Linked DNA regions of Homo sapiens: all the other regions are reported to be linked to region 2. Evidence: microRNA targets listed by miRTarBase, many of them from high-throughput screens and not tested one by one. Region 2 holds a microRNA gene; each other region holds the end of a gene's coding sequence.
What was found. The annotated mature microRNA hsa-miR-4465 reads CUCAAGUAGUCUGACCAGGGGA and lies in region 2 at 3,386-3,407, shown strand. An mRNA with a match to its seed (bases 2 to 7 or 8) in the 3' UTR can be bound and repressed. Matches are read on the target gene's strand: a 7mer-m8 pairs with bases 2 to 8, a 7mer-A1 pairs with bases 2 to 7 and ends in A, and an 8mer does both.

Region 1 (4,000 bases), not on the chromosome of region 2:
ACTTGTGTAATATTGAAGTTATACGGTGTACTGAAAGGATATGATTTCCATGAATTTATCTATTCCAGTCTATGCCTACTGAATATTTGACTTTATAAACTCTGGATAAACTAATTTTTAGGACTTCCATTTTTAAGATAAATCTCTTTTTAGAAGATATTTATTCCCAAACCAACTCTAAATGTAATTGAACAAACATATGATCTCTCAAAATGTTCAGAATACAAAAACAAAAATCAAAAATGTATAACAGGCAAACAAGAAAACTGGCACTAGCAGTTTTACTGCCATATAGCCCTCAATTATATCTGATTTACACTATTATCTATGTTGCATTTTACTTCAGTCTAAAACTTTAAATTATGAATTCTCAAAAGAGCTAGTCTCCTCTGAGAGATAGCTTATAAACTGAAATAACAATTTATATTATAAACTGAAATGTTATGACCTACACCCACATATACATATATAAAAATAGTCCCACTGAACGTTTGACATGTTTAGATTATGCAGCTCAAATAATCTGTTATAAAATATTTTAAAGCTTAGTTTCATGTAATTAAGACAAAACTCCATTTTTACCACTTCTCCCCACATAAAGCGTGTGTCCTTTACTATGACTCGAGCAGGCTTCCCAGAATGAGGTGTCCAAAGGTGCTGCTTTAGAAAAGATAAGTGAAGGGCTCAGTCAGTATTTCACAAATTCTAGTAACACTCACACAGAGCAGAGTAATGAGGACACAGAAAGCTGTCTCAAGAAAAGCTAATAATTCTATTAGTTAAGCTTTGCTTTTTAAAAACCAGTAGCATTTCTTCCAACACAAAACCTTCAAAGTGAGAATCTTGCATTTTAAGAAAAGGCTGTAGTGCAAGGAATTTCTTTAAAATCAAAACTTAGAAGGTCAAAGACACGGAAGAGAACAAATGGTTCTAATTAAGATGTAATTAATGAAGATCAGCTATTTTTGTGAACTCTGGCATTTGAGATATAAAGTGAAAACAACACGCATAAAGGTCATAACAGTTAAACTGTATAGATTCAAATCTTACTGAATTTTTCAAAAAACTACTTTTTTGAGCGCAATGTATATAAACAAAAACTCCAAATGAAGCACACAAAAAATAAACTTGAAAAAAATGCTATGAAAAACTTTTCCATAGTTTAGTATAACAAAAATAAATCTCTTGCAGCAATAAAACCATAATTTTAAAAGGGAATGTAAGTTAATCATGGATTTAAAATAACCTAAATTAGAACTACATATAAACAGGGAGTTTTCTCATACATTCAGAACCCAAGCAACAGCAACTATCCTTAAAGCTCAAAACTGATTACAGCTAACATCAGGTCCGACGTGACTTACGTAAAGCTGAACCCAGAGTTAGTTCAAGTTAAGATTTTACGAATTTTACAAAACATGAACTTTGATCTTGGCCTCTGTCTTTAAAATGGAAGACCAAGAATACTCAAATGTTTGCCCAGATGTCACCCTGACTAGGGTCATGAAGTCATATCTAAGCAATTAAAGAGAACCACCACTATAGTGTAAAGGCTTTGATGTGGATACCTGGCCTGATGGCTCTTTCTTGGTCTTTTCTAGCAAAAGACATCAATGAGGAAAATAATGAAGACGTTATTTTCTTTAAAGCAAAATAGCACACATACAAAGCCACTAAACTAATGTAGAAAAAAATTAAATGGCTAACTTATTCCTAACTTTCAAAAATAAAATAATGTATTTTTTAAATGTAGAAAAAGACTTTTACCCATATTACCATGGGAAACAAGATACCAAATTTCATGTTTGGAAACTGTAAGTAAATGACAGGACTAGTTAATGAAAATATAAGTCTCATATATAAAATAAGATTATTATTGATTTTTGAAATCAATGCCAATGGTTTTTTCAAAAGCTACTTATGTACCTGGTTTCTTAAACCCAAATGCCTCCAATTCTGGAGTTTGAAGATCAGGTTTAATCTCATAGTATGTCTAATAACTGCCCAAAAAACCCCCAAAAACCAAAGTCTTCACATTTCCATGACTTCACACTTCCATTTTATGTTCAATGGTGGCAGCAGCAAAAAAACAAACAAACAAACAAAAAAACAAAAAACACCAAACAAAGTGAAACTAGAAAATTTATACATCAGCAGCCATATAGAAGGCATTGCAATATTGCACCAATATTCTAAGATCTGGCAAGTTTTGCCAGTATAGATCTAGTCTGTATCAGATATAGACTACTCATGCGCAAATGGCATCAATTTCAATGATCCACTCCCAGGTTATTCTTGCTTAACTTTGTCAACTATGTTTTTTCCTCTGCATTTAAAGAGTTGAAAGGTGCAGCTAATCCTAAAACACTTATTATAAATGCTTTTAAACAGCTATTCTTGATCCATTCTGAACTTTGTGGTTACTATCCTTCATGCTAATAGCTTTCAGTAAATAAAACAAAAACTGAGGGCTTACATCCCTAGTGTCGCTGGGTATTTTGTACAAAATAAACAAGTAGATAAAACCAGTAACATTATAATTCTATTTCTTACCTCTAAGTCAAAACTGAGGTCAAATTTTCTAAGAGTTTCTACCTTCCATTCAATAACAAATGCAGCAGCCTTACTGAATGTAAAAAATGGGAGTTGCACTTACTTTTAAGGGGCCTTGATTTAGGAGTCTGGTATTACCTAAATGCTCTTTAAAAGTGCTTGCATGCTGCAGGGCCAGAACTTGTCATATACCACTCCGATTCTCACTAAAAACAGGGTAACGTTAAACAGACTGCAAAGAAAAACATTTTCAAAAAGAAAAGACATACATCGACAAAGAACACTAACATTTACTTTTGAAAATAAAATATAAAGTGTTAGTTTTCATAACCATACATGTTTCAGAAATATAAGGAGTTCAAATATTACTGAATCAGTATGGACTGAAGATAGGCTACTTTGATAGCAAATGAGGACTCCAGTTATTTCAACTTTCTAAAAATGTTAATATGTGAAAAGACGTTACATCTAAAATTCAACAAGTATGGCGAACTGTGTGTGCAAGTAAGTGCACTAGCTTAAAAATATAGAATCCTAACCACGCATAAAAGGGATGTGCCTTGTGTATTTATAGGTTGTATGCGAGTATGAATATGCTTTCACTAACACAATGCGGATAAGAGAAGGCAGCTTAGAAATAGTGTTTTGAATATAAAAAGTTAATTTTGTAGAAAATTTATATTTTTGCATTTTCAGCAAAAAGCCATGCAAAAAGGTCAAGAGTTTTAAACTTTTAAATAATAAAACTAAAAAGTATAACAGACTGAAATACACTGAAATAAATCTTCAAAAAGGTTTCAGATAGAGACAGAGACTGAAATCACATCCAGTGACACTTATCGGGTCTTCTCTTAGAAGACACATGACTCCTACGCTAACATCTGAAAGAAATGTTTAAAGCAGAAAATCAATATCCCAGATAAGTGGAGCATTCTATTCAACTGCTTCTGGAAGTAGTTTCAAGAGCTAGCACTTAGAATTAACTTATTGCATGAGTTTGAGGCCACTGAAAAGAAAAAAAGGATGCTAGCACAGAATGAAAAATTCTTACAATGTTAGACCAATGGCTTTGATAGTAAAACTGGTGAGGTTTTTCTTTATATGTTTTAATTAATTACTCTGTGCAAACAAATACTTTGTTTGCCTCTTTTTTTAGGGAGGAGGATGTCATTAGTTGCAACGCCTGACCTCATCCAGTACATAGTCCGGAAAATGCAGGTTGCATACTTGTAAACCATCCAGCTTGCAGGGCATCCGAGGGTACTCATCTTCCTTCCACTTGTTTTCATCCGGATCAAAAGTGAGGATGGAATCGCTGTAATGACCATTATAACAAAGGCCTCCAAGAACCATTATTTGTTTGTCCAGCACAGTCACACCATGGCCACTTCTACCAATCGGCATGGATGCCAAGATGGTCCACTGATCAGTCTCTGGGTTGTATACT
Region 2 (6,015 bases):
CATATGTCAGGCATAAAATGAGACAGAAATTGAAAAGATAAATATGACAGAGTCATACACACATATGTGTCATCAGTATTAGATGTATTACTTCAGTATAAAACAGTCAGACATCATAGTTACACATAAAAGATTAGCTTATTTTGAAATAATAGTAGTATCAGTGAGGCCATGATACTCTCTTTTAGTCTAGGATTACATTTCTTTAAATCTTTCTCCTGAAAAATTTTAATACTTCTATTTATTTTTAACCTTCTCTCTCTGTCTCTCTCTCTATATATATCTAAATAAAATATATATATGTGTGTATGTGTGTGTCTGTGTATGTGTGTATATGTGTATATATAGGTGTATCTATATAGAGATACAGATATAATATCTAATAATACACACACAACGCTTCAGACATTTTATTATTATTATAGTGTCTAATATTACACACATATATCTCTCTATATAGATATATATTCTCTATATCTCTATAGATATAGAGAATATATATTCTCTATATATCTCTATAGATATAGAGAATATATATTCTCTATATATCTCTATAGATATAGAAAATATATATTCTCTATATATCTCTATAGATATAGAGAATATATATTCTCTACATCTATCTCTATAGATATAGAGAATATATATTCTCTACATCTATCTCTATAGATATAGAGAATATATATTCTCTACATCTATCTCTATAGATATAGAGAATATATATTCTCTACATCTATCTCTATAGATATAGAGAATATATATTCTCTACATCTATCTCTATAGATATAGAGAATATATATTCTCTACATCTATCTCTATAGATATAGAGAATATATATTCTCTACATCTATCTCTATAGATATAGAGATATATATTCTCTATATATATCTCTATATCTATAGAGATATATATTCTCTATATATATCTCTATATCTATAGAGATATATATTCTCTATATATATCTCTATATCTGTAGAGATATATATTCTCTATATATATCTCTATATCTGTAGAGATATATATTCTCTATATATATCTCTATATCTGTAGAGATATATATTCTCTATATCTCTCTATATCTGTAGAGATATATATTCTCTATATATCTCTCTATATCTGTAGAGATATATATTCTCTATATATCTCTCTATATCTGTAGAGATATATGTTCTCTATATATCTCTCTATATCTGTAGAGATATATGTTCTCTATATATCTCTCTATATCTGTAGAGATATATGTTCTCTATATATCTCTCTATATCTGTAGAGATATATGTTCTCTATATATCTCTCTATATCTGTAGAGATATATGTTCTCTACATATCTCTATATCTATAGAGATATATGTTCTCTACATATCTCTATATCTATAGAGATATATGTTCTCTACATAACTCTATATCTATAGAGATATATGTTCTCTACATATCTCTATATCTATAGAGATATATGTTCTCTACATATCTCTATATCTATAGAGATATATGTTCTCTACATATCTCTATATCTATAGAGATATATGTTCTCTACATATCTCTATATCTATAGAGATATATGTTCTCTACATATCTCTATAGATATAGAGATATATGTTCTCTACATATCTCTATAGATATAGAGATATATGTTCTCTACATATCTCTATAGATATAGAGATATATGTTCTCTACATATCTCTATAGATATAGAGATATATGTTCTCTACATATCTCTATAGATATAGAGATATATGTTCTCTACATATCTCTATAGATATAGAGATATATGTTCTCTACATATCTCTATAGATATAGAGATATATGTTCTCTACATATCTCTATAGATATAGAGATATATGTTCTCTACATATCTCTATAGATATAGAGCTATATGTTCTCTACATATCTCTATAGATATAGAGCTATATGTTCTCTACATATCTCTATAGATATAGAGCTATATGTTCTCTACATATCTCTATAGATATAGAGCTATATGTTCTCTACATATCTCTATAGATATAGAGCTATATGTTCTCTACATATCTCTATAGATATAGAGCTATATGTTCTCTACATATCTCTATAGATATAGAGCTATATGTTCTCTACATATCTCTATCGATATAGAGCTATATGTTCTCTACATATCTCTATCGATATAGAGCTATATGTTCTCTACATATCTCTATCGATATAGAGCTATATGTTCTCTACATATCTCTATCGATATAGAGCTATATGTTCTCTACATATCTCTATCGATATAGAGCTATATGTTCTCTACATATCTCTATCGATATAGAGCTATATGTTCTCTACATATCTCTATCGATATAGAGCTATATGTTCTCTACATATCTCTATCGATATAGAGATATATGTTCTCTACATATCTCTATCGATATAGAGATATATGTTCTCTACATATCTCTATCGATATAGAGATATATGTTCTCTACATATCTCTATCGATATAGAGATATATGTTCTCTACATATCTCTATCGATATAGAGATATATGTTCTCTACATATCTCTATCGATATAGAGATATATGTTCTCTACATATCTCTATCGATATAGAGATATATGTTCTCTACATATCTCTATCGATATAGAGATATATGTTCTCTACATATCTCTATCGATATAGAGATATATGTTCTCTACATATCTCTATCGATATAGAGATATATGTTCTCTACATATCTCTATCGATATAGAGATATATGTTCTCTACATATCTCTATCGATATAGAGATATATGTTCTCTACATATCTCTATAGATATAGAGATATATGTTCTCTATATATCTCTATAGATATATGTTATCTATATAAATATATATTCTCTCTATATATAATTACATACACACATATATATGTATGTAATATTAGACAAAATCTCTAATAGCAAGACAAACATGCAACCCTTCCGACATTTTATTGTTATTAGATATAGTGTCTAATATTACACATATGGCACAAGCCTAGAAGAAAGCAATAGTAATAGATCATTTATCTGTGTTAATTAAAGAGGTAAAATCGTTATCTAGCAAAATATGTTGAATTTAACAAACTGCATCCAGAAAAAATTCTCTAGTTTTACCATTTCTAGAAGAGGATGCAATTTTTGTTCTTTTAAGTTTTGTTCTATGTGTGTGGGGTTGGGAAGGGAATGGGGGTGAAGGCGTGGCTGAGAGAATAAAAGCCTTGAGAAAAGAGGGCTTGCCTTGCTCCTTATGCTGGAGAGATGTCCAGGAGGTACCACGGTTGGTAGTGCTGCCTACAAAGGATGTTACAGTTGAATTTGTCAAGTTCGTTTCTTAGACAGCCCTGCTCTGGTCTAGCCCAAGCTCTCATGTGTCCCCTGGCACGCTATTTGAGGTTTACTATGGAACCTCAAGTAGTCTGACCAGGGGACACATGAGAGCTTTTCATTGATTGCATTCCCACAAGCATATTTCCGTCACAAGTGGGGCATGTATCTCTTGTTTGGTTTGTTTTTAGTTTCAATAGCATATAACTTGCTTATTTCGCTTCTATGGATACTACCTGTGCCACTAAATAGGTCCCCTTAAACCTCTTGCAAAAAAGAAGGAAGTATTATTTACTCTACTTTTCTCTTTTAACCCTGAAATGAACATACACATTGTTAAAAATATTTATGGCATTTTATTGCTACTAATTATGAAAAAAAAAAGAAACAGCAGGAAACACAAAAGAGCAAATGTCGGTCTACATTTAAAGCAACCATAATGAGGACTCTCCCAGTGTTTTTTCAACTTCCTTAATCTATGGACCATTTTCAGCTAAAAAATAATTAATGATAAGTACACTTTAATTCTAAGTATCAATTTTTATAATATCAGCTAAAAACATACCAACAAAACTTATATATGTTTTGATATAATTGTATAAAATAAAATTTTTATGTAAAATAAGATATAAACTTATTTTACTTATAGCTCTGAAATCTATTAAATTTCATTTTCAAATAAAATACTAAAGCTTCCTACCAAATCACTAAAATTCAAATTAACAACATTAATTTAATATGCCATAGATTATAATTTTTATAAAAAAATACAATTACCAATGAAATTAAAACTATGAAGCAATACTTTCTCACTTTTGTCATTCTTATTTTGACCCTTATTTAAATTATAGTAGTTATCGTTGCCTTTATTTTTGCCTTTAAAAAACTCAAAATTTTAACTATCAGGGAATTATTTTGAAGATCCAATCAATTCAATCATATTCATAAAAGGCAAAAAAATTTTGGAGTATGAAGTCCTTTATTATATATTTAGTATCATCATTACTTGTTCAAAATTAAATCTATACAACACATCTGCCAGTGAAATAATTATGACACTGACTGCTACAGTACAGGTTCTGTTGAGTTCTTCAGAGTTGAAAGACCATGTGCTATTTGGTGACAATTTCCCCCCTACTATGCCTTATGTAAATGGCTGTAAAAGCTTTATTTGTACAGCTTGCCATGATGTAATTTGTCCTTTACTTGGGGCCAATGCAAATGCAAACTCCAGGACTTCAGTAAAGCAGTGGGACATGGGTATAAATTGGTCATACAAACAATCTTTGGTATGCTCATATATATGGGTGTAAGATTATCAAAATAAATGTAGAAAATTCAAAATTCTCTTAAAACTAAGAAGTCAATCTCCAGAAATCGTAAGAGTGATAATTCTTTCTTTTATATACACTCCTTGGCACTTTTTCATGTTCTAGTTCAATTAAGAGAAAAACAAAAAAGTTGTAAAATGCTAAGTCATTCAGGATTTCTCCAGATTCCAATATTATTTATGGCTCAAGGTAGATCCAAATAAAAATGAGAGTGTTACTGTTTTACACAGGAAATATCAACTTAGGTCATTTCCCAACAGTTACACAATCCAAAGTAAATTGAATGGATCTTAAATATTTAAAAAATATATTCATTTGAGGAAAAAAAATGAAGCTTAAGACTTAGAGGAGATCTGAATTTATTTGCTAAGTAGGTAGTGAACAATTCATTTGTTCATTAAAGTTTTCTGGAGTATTTATCCTATGACATGCACTGGAACAGTTTTACCATTGTGTAGTTACATCTACTTTGATTTCAGTTCTCTGGAAATGTTACTATAGATAATGACCAGATGGAGCCTTAAGTTATTTGTAAGCTCTATATTCTATAATTCTAATTACGCTGCATTGTTGTATTGCCTCTGTTTTATCCCTCTGATTTTCAATAAACTGTAAAGTCTTTGAATGTTATATGTATATTTATTTATATATATGCATACAATCACAACCAAAAGAAGTAAAAAACCACAAACCTCCATGAATTTTATTTTATTTTACTTAATTTTAATTCATTTTATTTTATTTTTGTAGAGATGAGGCCTCACTATATTGCCCAAGCTGGTCTCAAACTCCTGGCCTCAAGAGATCCTCCCACTTCAGCCTCCCAAAGTGCTAGGATTACAGGTGTGAGCCACCATTCCTGATCAAATTTTAGAGTAAATGATAGAATAATATTCACTCTATGAATACTCAATAAATGTTGTATTTAGTAAAGATGTATTAATGATAGAACATGAACTTTCCAATAAAAATTAATGCAGAGAAGAATGCTCATTTTTATTTTACTTATAATAAATTTAATACCGTTCCAACTTAGATTTCTTTCTAGCTAAAAGGATATCATAGTAATCCATCATAGTAGTCTTACAGATTAAAGAAAAGATTACTTGGGTAAAAATAAAAGCACCAAGATTTTTCTAAGGGATTTTTATGTACATTTTGCCTTATGTCATAATGTGGACAACCATCCCTACTTACATCAAAATTTAATTAGCAAATCATAGGTTTAATTATCATCTACTACCTGTGTTTCCACAATAATTCATTTCTGCTCAAACTATATCATGATATATCAGGCTATGATTTTGACTATTGCCAAAAAGTAAAGTTTGATATTGTATTGCATTCTACACTTTTCCCAGACAGAAATAAGAGGTAATGC
Region 3 (6,015 bases), not on the chromosome of region 2:
TAGCTCAAAGCCCAGAATAAGGAGTAAGAAAACTGGGCAGAGCTGGATTGAGACTCCTGGGATCTCCTCTCCGTTCACTCATCCCTACTCCTTTGTTAAACTGCCCTCTCCACTTTCCTAAAATTTAAGGGCAAAGCAAGTTGTCCCAGGCACCTCTTAATGCTTGTCAGAAATCCCCCCTACTTCAGATGAAGCAAATTTCTTCCAGTCAGCATCCTTAACTCTATACCACCACCTTGTGGTCACCAGCACAAACTTTCCCTGGCCACTTCCAGAGGACCAAGGTTGGGAGAGGAAGAACCATGAGTAGCTGCCATCCCAGTCCTTGCTAAGTGCCTTCATGTGCCTTACTCCATTTAATCCTTATTACAGGTGGTGAAACTGCTACTCAAAGACATGGAATAATTTGCCAGCCTCTCAGGTGGCGCCAGGATTTCTACCTCAGACCTCAGAGATCCTGCTTCCTACTGCACTCTCCTGATAGCTTCCTGGGAAGCTGGCTGGCACGGCACTTCAGATTCAGGGACTGCCTGATACTGTGAAGTCACAAACCCAGTTAACTGCAGAGCCAGAGCCTTTTTTTCTTTTTTTCGAGACAGTCTCTCTGTCGCCCAGGCTGGAGTGCAGTGGTGCCATCTCGTCTCACTGCAACCTCTGCCTCCCAGGTTCAAGCAATTCTTGTGCCTCAGCCTCCTGAGTAGCTGGGATTACAGGCGCCCACCACCTGTTCGGCTAGTTTTTGTAATTTCAGTAGAGACGGGGTTTCACCATGTTGGTCAGGCTGGTCTTGAACTCCTGACCTCGGGTGATCCACCTGCCTTGGCCTCCTGAAGTGTTGGGTTTACAGGCGTGAGCCATGGTGCCCAGCAGAACCAGAGCTTTTCTTGACTCCCTTGTTTGGTTCTGGGCTCTTAGCTAAGCCCCAGGTAAGCCTGCCAGTTTCAGGGAAGGACTCCTGGAGATGGCTGTATCTGAAACAGAATTCACCAGACAGGGTTTTAGACTTGATTTACAGAGAACCCTTTAGGTGGTGAATTGTTTTCACCTGTTATTTCTAGTGCCTGCTATTCAGCCACATCCTCAGCAACTTGCAGCACCCAAACTGCCACAAAACAAGCAAGTAACTGTGCCCTGCTTCCCTAGCTCTAATCGGATGCTCCCACACCACTTGGCTGTTCAGTTCCTAGGTCCCCTGAGACCCAGTCCCATCAGGGCTGGACTTGGCAGGCAGGAATCCCCTGGCATTCACTCAAGCTGGCAACAAAGGAGAAGCTGGCATGAAACTTAAATTCCACCTTGGCTCTCAGCCCTAAATCCACCGTGCCTGTCTGGGAGTGTCATGGCATGCGTCTTGGAGCCAGAGAACAAAAGATGGCAAGTGCTGCAGGCCCAGACAGGCAAGGACCACAGCCCATATATCCTGCACCACTGTGCTGCCTTCCAACAATTTTGTCTTCAAGAACAGCACCTAGACACGCATTAGGAGGGAAAATTACACTTCCACCAGCACAGGCATGTTCGCCCCTTCCCAGCTGGTAATTGAGTTTCGTCGTCAGAGCTATCACCTAGATCAGGTAAGAAAATGGGTGAAAAGTACGCCAAGTGCCATTACTGGTCAATTTTACTTAAAACAGTTTTCTCAAACCTGGAGAAAGCAAACCATGCACCACCTTGGCTCCTCAACTAGGCTTCCTAAACTACCAAAGAGGCTCTTTAAGCACCTCAACCTTGGGGGAAAACAAAGAAAACAAATCCTCTTCTGCTCTGAACCTGGCCTAGGAGCCCTGCTCCTCTGGACCAGCCCCTGACCTGCTTTTGGGTGGGCTACTACTCTCCTACCCAGTGTAAGGTATGTAAGATGAAGGAGCGTGGGAGAGAGAGAGGGCCCAGGCCTAGTTTCTGCTATTCCATCTGGACCATTCTATTATAGGACTCAAAGACAGATACAGAGAGAACTTTGGAATAAGGCCTGGGATAAAATTTTGGTGTTATCACTAAAGAGCTGCTACTTAACCTTCTTTTGTTCTGTTTCATCACCTGTAAAATTGGGTACACCATCTACCTCCATGGGATGCTGGGTTATGGGATAATATACTTAACATACCTTAAAAAAAAAAAAAAGCAAGATTCCCTTTGGCATGCATATAGAATGGGGGAGAATACAAATTAGTTTGGCCCCAGCAACCTGAACCTTCTTCTTCTAGCATAACTCTGGGATCATGACCTCAGAAAAACTTTGCATATACCTTTCCATAGACAAATGTAGTAAACACAACTCAAACCCAAGGCTGAAATGCTATTGGCCGTGACTAATCTGAGGTATGCCTTGGAGAACTGTCTCCACAGTTCAGGCCTTTCTAGACCAGTCCTAAAAAATCTCAAGCACACAAAGTATATTCTTAAATATGGTTTAATACTCTTCTCCATTTCTGTACATCACAACACCAAGATTTTGCTGCTTAGTATCTCTCTGCAGAGGCTATAGAGAATGCAAAGGCTACGGTTTTCACCCCCTCTTATATGTGTTTGTATGTGTAAGTGTAATACATATCAATATATATTGATACACACATCAATATATAATGCAATATATATCACCGAAGAGAACACATTGATTAAAGAAATACAAAAATTTGGCATCATTTCCAAACTTAAATAGTAAAAATAAAAACTACAAAAGGAGCTGCATACCCTAAATGTATCATGTGAAACAACAAGCATATTCAAAAATGTAAATTTACATCCAATTTCTCTGGTCTTGTCATATCACATCAGACCCATTTACAATGGCAAAACCCTAAGGTACTGCTGTGAAGAGAGCATGTTTGCTCGCTCTTGGGTGTTCTGCAAACAAATAGCAGAGCCCAAAGCAAAAAAGCCTGTTCCGGTGAAGTCTCCCACGTTGGTGAACACCAAATAATGGACTCTTCTCACAGGGGGTTGAGACATCAGGTTACACATTGACAGACAGTATTTGGACCTCAGAGTACAGTGTGAGAACCAGAAACTTTACATTTAAGACATACTCCCTTCATTCAAGTGAAACAGGATTATTGGAACGATAGGCAGGTCTGTAACCTGGGAACAAGGAGCTGGTTCAGACCAATAAAGCTACGAGTGACTGAATCAAGTCAGTAAAGAACAGCAGTCAGGCACTAAAGTGTTAAAAGTACCCAATTTGAAAACCAAATGCACCCCACTACCCTAGTCAGTGTGGAGGTGATACCAATTGACTTTTAAAACCTTTGGTCCTTCAAAGTCCATTTGGTATACTTTTTTCCATCGCTACCACTGGGCACGTACTATACACTTTGTTCAACTGTCACCACCCTGGGCACGCCATGACCTTGCATATCAGCTGGGTTCAAGTCTGACTTACAGCCCAGCTGTGAAGCATAAGCTTCAGGGTTTCAGGCCAACTTTTGGATCCAACATGGTCTTAAATCCATGGTGCCAGAAGCTGTGTCCCATCCCTTCCCACCCGCCCCTAATTTCTCATGTGAGAAGTGCTTGTAAGTCCCACATTTGAAACAGATGCTCCAACCCCACCAGGAGGTCAGGAGTTTATAATTACATGCAGTCATACATGTCTGTCGTTCCTGTGAAAAACCTTGCAGTTCATTTTAATAAATCAAAACATTCACATAATCTCATGCCATCCAACACAAGGAAAACACATCCACCTCCCTTTTAACAAGGATTGACCCAAGCAAAATAAAATCCTCTTTAAATTTCTTCGCTTCCACTTAAATTGCATGTTTTATTTCTCCCAATCCCAGCAATAGCACAGAAGCCCCATCATATCCATCCCAAACCGGTTTCGAGTAGGTTAAGGTTATAGGGACCCTTGTCAGAACATTGATACAAAGGGCTCCCAAACGCCGGGCACAAATGTGTCTGCAAACAGATGGAAGTAAACAGTGCACTGGCCCAAATGCTTCATGAGTCAGTTTGATTTTGCAATGCAATTTGCATCCTTGAAACTGCCAGTCTGGAGGGGGACGGGGTAGCGTGAGGGAGTGAAGTTGAAAGTGCCTCCTATTAGCTCACCCTTTCAACATTAAACAGAGACCAAGAGAGAAATGGTTCCAACATTTCACCACATATATTTCTTCTTACGCAGTCTAAGCTGAGAATGCCATGTAAATGGGTCACTGCGAAATGCAGCAATTTAATTTTTCTCCAATCAAAATAAGAAACAAACCAGTATGATCTCACTTCTATTAACTTTTGAAGGTTTACAGCAGTTAAAGTATTTTTGCTTCTATGTATGAAGGTTAAAAAAATCATTTTTTTTCATAAAATACAAGAGCAACCAATTTCACCATCCAGTAAAAGTAAAAACTGGGATTCTTTTTTAAATTAGTCCAAAGTGGCGTTTAGGAACTTAGTTGTAGGCTGCTGCGCTGACACCATGACAAACCAAAGTGTAGGGCTGGGTCTGGTTTTGTTTCGGTTTTCTTTTCAATATCCAATGCTCATGGATTAAGTTCTGGAAATGTTCCAATTGTAAGGCAGGGATCTGTTTGGATTCCACCATGGGTATGCTCCTTGGGTTGGATGCTGGAGGGTGAGGCACGTTTTGCCGGACCCATGTCGACTACCTAGTAGTCATCAAGGTCAAAAAATTCATCGTCTCCTCCTTGGTATTCCATTCCCTGGAAATCTACTCGGTACCGCAAGATACCTGGGGAAACAAACCAAAAGGTAAATTACCTGTGTTCATGGGATGGGCATGTGTGTAGGTGGCTGGTAAGGGAATAAGGGAAGCCCTATTCTCTTGCAGAATTGCAGAAAGCAAAGAGGTAATAATAAACATGGGTCCAAATTAGGAACCTGCACCTGCTGCGTCAATCACCTATCCCAGCAGATAATAAGCACCTCACCGGAAGCAGGGCTAGGGCTAGCCAGGAGGGACCTTGACCTGAGACCCTGGTTTTAAGTTTGGTTTGCTGATTTGCTACTCACCTCCAATTCCACCAAATCCTTTCACAAACTGAGACCCTTCTTGTGATTTATCTGTGACAATTTCCAACGTAGCTCCAAATTTTTTATAGTTGTTAGCAAACCATTCCAACAGGGGCATGCTCTCGATAAGCTCATGTTCCTGTCCGGTCTACAGGGATGACCATGAGATACAAAAATGGGGGATTAGGATATATGAAGGCTAATTAGTCCCTCTCACAGCCCCTTGCCCACCTATCACTCTCATCCTCCCATTTATAGGCATGTCTGTGTGTAAAGCTCTGTAAGTCATCTCTGGTTTTGATAACCTAATGGATATCAGCAGAGAAATTCGGATTATTTCAAACAACACTTCTCCTCAGGCTCTACCCTCAGCTATGAAATACCAACACAAAAACTCAGTGGGTATTCAGCTTATGATTCCTACTGTTGACTCTAGAAGTCAGGCTGTTGTAGTGTCTCTAAGCAGCACCCATTCAATGGCTCAGAAGAGACATTCCAGGACTGCTTTTGGGAGTGGCCTCGTAGAGAACAAAGCTCTCCAAACCAGAATTTGAGGAAGCTATCATTTAAACCTATCTCATACGGGAGGGTCATACTTTCAACTGTTGTGATGCACTTAGAGCAAACCAGAGAAGCCACTGCAGTGGAAGAGCTGATCAAGTGAAGAAAGCAGCACAGGTTTCACAGTGCAGGAGAGGCATTATGTAAATTACATTTTCCTCCCTATTAAATTTCAAGGATAATGAAATGTTTTCCTGATTGCTTAACTACTTAAAAACAAAGACAAAAACAAACAAACAAACAAAAACCAGGCCAGGCATGGTGGGTCACGTCTGTAATCTCACCACTCTGGAAAACCAATGTAGGAGGATCACTTGGGCCCAGGAGTTCAAGACCAGCCTGGTGAACACAGCAAGACCCCATTTCTATAAAAAAAATTAGGCTGCCTGGCATGGTGGCTCACGCCTGTAATCCCAGCATTTTGGGAGGCTAAGGCAGGTGGATCACCTGAGGTCAGGAGTTCGAGACCAGCCTGGCCAACATGAT
Region 4 (6,015 bases), not on the chromosome of region 2:
GCCTCCGCCTCCCGAGTTCAAGCGATTCTCCTGCCTCAGCCTTCCAAGTAGCTGGGATTACTTGACTAGGGCAGCCAGTGCAAGGCCTGCCCCCATGCAAGGGAGATGATTATTATGGTGGCACCCGCCACCATGCCCGGCTAATTTTGTATTTTTAGTGGAGACGGGGTTTCTCCATGTTGGTCAGGCTGGTCTCAAACTCCCGACCTCAGGTGATCCGCCTGCCTTGGCCTCCCAGAGTCCTGGGATTATAGGCGTGAGCCACCGCGCCCGGCCAAGATTATTTTTAAAATTGGGCTATGATTGTGACAATGCACTCCAGCCTGGGTGGTAGAGCGAGACCTTGTCTAAAATAAGTAAGTCAATAAAATAGTCTTTAAAATGGCCAATTCCAGGCTGGGCGCAGTGGCTGCATACCAGTGTGAATGTATTAAAGCACTGCATTGCACACCTGAAAATGGTTAATTTTATGTTATGTGAATTTCACCTCAATAACAAAAAAAGTGACCCGGGACATATCATGTGCACACAGGAGCCCATTTGGAAGGGGTCACGATGGCCAAACAGAGAGGACAACTTGAGCAACAAAATTAAAGTTTATAAAGGATTTATAGTCTGTAGAAAAAATGTCATCAAGGCCGGGTGTGGTGGCTCATGCCTGTAATCCCAGCACTTTGGGAGGCCAAGGCGGGTGGATCATGAGGTCAGGAGATAGAGACCATCCTGGCTAACACGGTGAAACCCCGTGTCTACTAAAAAATACAAAAAATTAGCTGGGCTTGGTGGCGGGCGCCTGTAGTCCCAGCTACTCGGGAGGCTGAGGCAGGAGAATCGCTTGAACCTGGGAGGCAGAGGTTGCAGTGAGCTGAGATCGCGCCACTGCACTCCAGCCTGGGCGACAGATCGAGACTCTGTCTCAAAAAAAAAAAAAAGGAAAAAGAAAAAATGTCCTCGAGTGGATGCTGGTAGAAATAAATGACTGAATAAATGGCTGATGGGACCACGAGACTGCTCCTCTTTACAGTGGAGTCCAGTGACTCACTGTGGCAACAAACACAGGACCCCATCCGCCAGTCTGGCTCCTGTCACCTCCTGGGCTGGCGAGGGCCTCAGTGCCACCATGCTGAAGTCTCTGCCTTCCCTTTCGGGACTTAAGTACCAGGACAGCAGATACAGAAATAGGCAGGGGAAGCTCACTGCTACTGGGGTCTGGTAACCTACAGATTCAGGGCTCAAGTCACACAATTTCTTTTTTGAGACAGGGTCTCACTCTGCCACCCAGTCTGGAGTGCAGTGGCACAATCACGGCTCACCACAGCCTCAAACTTCTGGGCTCCAGCAATCCTCTCACTGTGGCCTCCCAAAGTACTGGGATTACAGGTGTGGGCCACTACACTTAGCCTGCAGACAATTTTTTTTTTTAAATTTTTATATATTTTTTGAGACAGAGTCTGGCTCTGTCACCCAGACTGGAGTGCAGTGGTGCGTGAGCCACCACGCACAGACCCCTGGCCAATGTTTTTTTAAAAATCAGAACAAAATCTGGCCGGGCACAGTGGCTCCCGCCTGTAATCCCAGCACTTTGGGAGGCTGAGGTGGGCAGATCACCTGAGGTCATTTCAAGACTAGCCTGGCCAACATGGCAAAACCCCATCTCTACTAAAAATACAAAAATTAGCAGGGCGTGGTGGCAGGCACCTGTAATCCCAGCTACTCGGGAGGCTGAGGCAGAAGAATCGCTTGAACCCTGAAGGCAGAGGTTGCAGTGAGCCAAGATCATGCCACTGCACTCCAACCTGGGTGACACAGTAAGATTCCATCTCCAAAAATAAATAAATAAATAGGCTTGGTGCAGTGGCTCACAGCTGTTAATCCCAGCACTTTGGGAGGCTGAGGCAGGAGAATCGCTTGAACCCAGGAGGCGGAGGTTGCAGTGAGCCAAGAGCGTGCCACGGCACTCCAGCCTGGGCGATAGAGCAAGACTGTCTTTTAAAAAAGAATAAGTAAAATAAATTTCTGTTGGTTGAGCCATGCAAAATCTGTGGTATTTTGTTATGGCAGCCCTAGCAGACTGATATAATAGCTATTTCCATCAACACACTTATGTATGCAGACAGTATGTCTAGGATTTTTTTTTTTTTTTGAGTCTCACTCTGTTGCCCAAGCTAGAGTGCAGTGGTGCAATGTCGGCTCAGAGATTGGCAAGAGCTGGAAAAAACTGGGCAGCTGTATCAGGGAGTGTGACTTTGTACCATATTCTCTTTTTATACCTGTTCATTTTTATTTTTTCATTTTTTTTCTTTTTATCAGAGACAGGGGCCTCTTTGTTGCCCAGGTTAGTACTGAACTCCTGGTTCAAGTGATGCCCCTTCCTCAGCCTCCCAAAGTGTTGGGATTGTAGGCTGAGCCACCACTCCCAGCCTGTTCATTTTTGTATCCCTAATGTGACAGTTTGAAATGTCTACCAATTCTGATATTCTTCCCTTCAAAACACAGAACCTCATTCTCCTCCCTCTGCACGTGGGCTGGGCCTGGGGGGCTTGCTTTTGATAAACAGGCTGTGGCGGAAGTGATCACGTGAGACTTCTCAGGGTGGCTCATAGAAGCACTGTGGCTTGCTCCTTCCTCTCCCTTGGTTCACCTGCTCTGGGGAAGGCAGAGGCCATGCCGTGAGGATGCTCAAGCAGCTTCGTGTAGGGGCCCCCATGGGAAGGAACTGTGGCTGTCACCGACAGCCACGTGAGGGCACTGGCTTGGAAGTGGCTCCAGCCCCAGTTGAGCCTTCCTCAGACGAAGTGGCCTTGGCTGATGTCTTAACTGCAACCTCATGAGAGACTCTGGGCCACAACCACCCAGATACATCACTCCCAAATCCCCGACTGACACAGACTGTGAGAGAGTGAATGTTCGTTGCTTTAAGCCACTACGTGTGGGTGACTTGTTAAGGCAGCAACGGATGAACACACTGCAGATACTACTTATGAGCCATTTCAAATAGGCAGTTTCTGTCAGCCATTGGAACACTCTCCTAGACTTGCAACATTCTGGAGCTGAAAGGACGCCTGGGTCACCTGTGCCACTCCAGCTACAGTCACAGTAACCAAGCCACCAGCATGATCAACATCCGGGCACGGAGCAGGTTTCAGTGAGGTTTAATGCAACGTGCATTAAAATATCCAAGCTGTTTTCAGAAACATAAGAAGCCTGAAGCTGAGCTGTGGGTTTCCTCTTGTCCATCCTGAGGCTTGGGCTGCTCCAGATGCAGCAGGTGCTGAGGTGGGAGGAGCTAGCACCACCAGGCACCTGGAGGGAGAGCAGACGAGGCAGGGTGAGTAGAAGTGTCCCTTCCAGGCTGGGTGCAGTGGCTCACGCCTCTAATCCCAGCACTTTGGGAGGCCGAGGCGGGCGCATCACCTGAGGTCAGGAGTTTGAGACCAGCTTGATTAACATGGAGAAACCCCATCTCTGCTAAAAATACAGAATTAGCCTGGTGTGGTGGCAGATGCCTGTAATCCCAGCTCCTTGGGAGGCTGAGGCAGGAGAATCGCTTGAACCCGGGAGGTGGAGGTTGCAGTGCGCCAAGATCGCGTCATTGCGCTCCAGCCTGGGCAACAAGAGCCAAACTCTGTCTCAAAAAAAAAAAAAAAAATTAGCTGCGTGTAGTGGTGGGCACCTGTAGTCCCAGCTACTTGGGAGGCTGAGGCACAAGAATCGCTTGAACCTGGAAGGCAGAGGGTGCAGTGAGCTGAGATCGCGCCACCGTATTCCAGTCTGGCAACAGAGCGAGACTCCGTCTCAAAAAAAAAGAAACGTCCCTTCCATATGAAGCTGGCTGCGGAAGTGGCCCAGGACAGCAGCCTGGCAGGAACACCAATGCAGCACAGGCCCCGGGCTCCACGCAGTAGGGAGAAACACAGACCGGAGCAGGGCTCTGAGGCCCAGGTTCAAACAGTGGCATGGCCTCAGGCCTCAGGCCAGCACCTGGAAAATGGGGGTGTAAGAGCACGGCCACGTGGGACTGTCATGTGGGCACTGGGAAGATGCCACAGGCACTGTGGTTAAGGGGGCAGCTGGCATGCTGGAGAAACACGTGGATGCGTCCAGGGCCTCACAGGCGCTTCCAAGAGCTCATGGGGTGTCCAGCCACTGTGGGCCAGCCTCCACCTTCCCCCTCTGTCTGTAACATGGGCCCCACCCAGTTCAGGCTGCAGTGCCCACTGAGACGGAAGCAAGGTTTGCCTCAAAGACTCACTGGGATTGTCCAGAGGGAGGGCGAGGCCCACACCCCAATCACACAACCCAAGGCTGCGGGGCGGACAGTTCTGTGCCCGTGGGCCGGAGATGCCAGAAGGGGCACCCAGGGCCCCACTCTCGAATGCAGGTCTCTCCAGGGGGAGCAGTGAGGGCTGCCGCCCCGGCTCTGGGAGCCTGGAGAACCCACTCTTCGGCCACCATCCGGCCATCATGCAGTCCACCCACCGCAGCCCACTGAAACTTACCAGAGCAGTCTGTGAAGGGTTTGTGTAATTAATTATCCTTCTTAAACTTGCCATTGATGTAAGGTACCCAGTCCAGGATCAGCCGCCAATCGGTGGCCCACACCAGCCCCACGGCGCCCACAGCGCCCCATGTGTAGGCCGTCGGGACCCTGCGAGAGGAGAGGGGATGGTCAGGCCTGCTCTGGACCCTTTCTCCAAGACCCTCTCCTGCCCACCCCGGCCCCCCGTCCTGAGCGGTGATGGCTGAGGTGCGGGCCTGGCACCTGTGCCCGCCCAGTGCTGTGAGCCCTGAGGGCTGGCACCAGCAGCACAGGCCCTGCCCATGCTGCCGGCTCTCAGGAAGCCAGTAACTGCTCAAGGGGCTGCTGGGGTGGGAGTGGAGCTGGGGGGAGGCTGGGCCTGGCGCATGTGTAGGTGTTTGTAAGTTTGCAACCACCATGATGATGGGTCCGGTCTGCTGCAGTCTGCAGAAATTCATCCATCCCTGCCACAGCTGCAGGACTCAGGCAGGTGCCGCCATCACAGTCCCTGTTCCCAGGCGAGGACACCAAACAACAGACAGGGCGAGGCCCTCACCTGAGGCCACACAGCTGGCGAGGATCGAGGCCTCCGGTTCCAAGCTCATGCTCTTGCCCACCACGGCACGTGCTGTGAGAGCTCCCCTGAGTTGCCTGGGCCCAGCAGATTCTAGGAAGGCCCAGCAGATTCTAGGAAGGCCCAGCAGATTCTAGGAAGGCCCAGCAAACCCGCCTGCTGGCGTTTACGCCCTCGCACAGTATGAACTTGGGCACAGGCTTCTTTTTTTTTTTTTTTTTTTTTTTGAGACGGAGTCTTGCTCTGTCACCAAGCTGGAGTGCAGTGGCGTGATCTCGGCTCACTGCAATCTCCACCTCCCGGGTTCAAGCAATTCTCCTGCCTCAGCCTCCCGAGTAGCTGGGACTACAGGCGCCCGTCACTGCGCCTGGCTAATTTTTTGCATTTTTAGTAGAGATGGGGTTTCACCGTGTTAGCCAGGATGGTCTCAATCTCCTGACCTCGTGATCCGCCCGCCTCGGCCTCCCAAAGTGCTGGGATTACAGGCGTGAGCCACCGCGCCCGGCCGGGCACAGGCTTCTAATGAGTAGAACGCAGCATGAGCAATGGGGCATCACTGCCGAGGTCAAGTGACAAAAGACTGGCTTCAGACATGGAGGCTCACAAGGGGAATCCCAGCACTTTGGGAGGTTGAGGCAGGAGGCTCACTTGAGCCTAGGAGTTTGAGACCAGCCTAGACAACAGAGTGAGACCCCATCTCTACACAAAATTAAGAAAAATTAGCCGGGTGTGGTGGCACATGCCAGTAGTCTCAGCTACTAGGAAAGCTGGGGCAGGAGGATCTCTTGAGCCCAGGAAGCAGAGGCTGTGGCTACACCAACTGCCTTCCAGCCTCGGTAAATATGAGACCATATCTCAAAAAAAATTAAAAAAGAAAAAGAGGCTGGGCGTGGTGGCTCACGCCTGTAATCCCAGCACTTTG

Region 1: miRTarBase lists KLHL15 as a target of hsa-miR-4465. Seed matches in the 3' UTR shown: 7mer-A1 at 1,387-1,393.
Region 3: the mRNA of ETF1 is a reported target of hsa-miR-4465. Seed matches in the 3' UTR shown: 7mer-A1 at 3,364-3,370 and 7mer-A1 at 3,035-3,041.
Region 4: the mRNA of UQCR11 is a reported target of hsa-miR-4465. Seed matches in the 3' UTR shown: 7mer-A1 at 2,355-2,361.

The regions. Positions count from the first base shown.
Region 1 is chrX:23,984,198-23,988,197 of GRCh38, forward strand. It overlaps KLHL15 (kelch like family member 15), which reads right to left. Exons shown (of 4, transcript NM_030624.3): 4 at 1-4,000. The coding sequence ends at 3,724. Among named protein-coding and RNA genes, the nearest start is that of KLHL15, 41 kb to the right of the region's middle.
Region 2 is chr6:140,680,470-140,686,484 of GRCh38, forward strand. MIR4465 (microRNA 4465) reads left to right here and starts at 3,345; the gene lies at 3,345-3,414. All of the region lies in intron 4 of LOC105378027 (a long non-coding RNA gene), which reads left to right.
Region 3 is chr5:138,503,701-138,509,715 of GRCh38, forward strand. ETF1 (eukaryotic translation termination factor 1) reads right to left here. Exons shown (of 11, transcript NM_004730.4): 10 at 4,969-5,116; 11 at 2,395-4,687. The coding sequence ends at 4,605. Among named protein-coding and RNA genes, the nearest start is that of ETF1, 37 kb to the right of the region's middle.
Region 4 is chr19:1,594,913-1,600,927 of GRCh38, forward strand. UQCR11 (ubiquinol-cytochrome c reductase, complex III subunit XI) reads right to left here. Exons shown (of 3, transcript NM_006830.4): 2 at 4,500-4,648; 3 at 2,257-3,303. The coding sequence ends at 4,528. Among named protein-coding and RNA genes, the nearest start is that of MBD3, 5.1 kb to the left of the region's middle.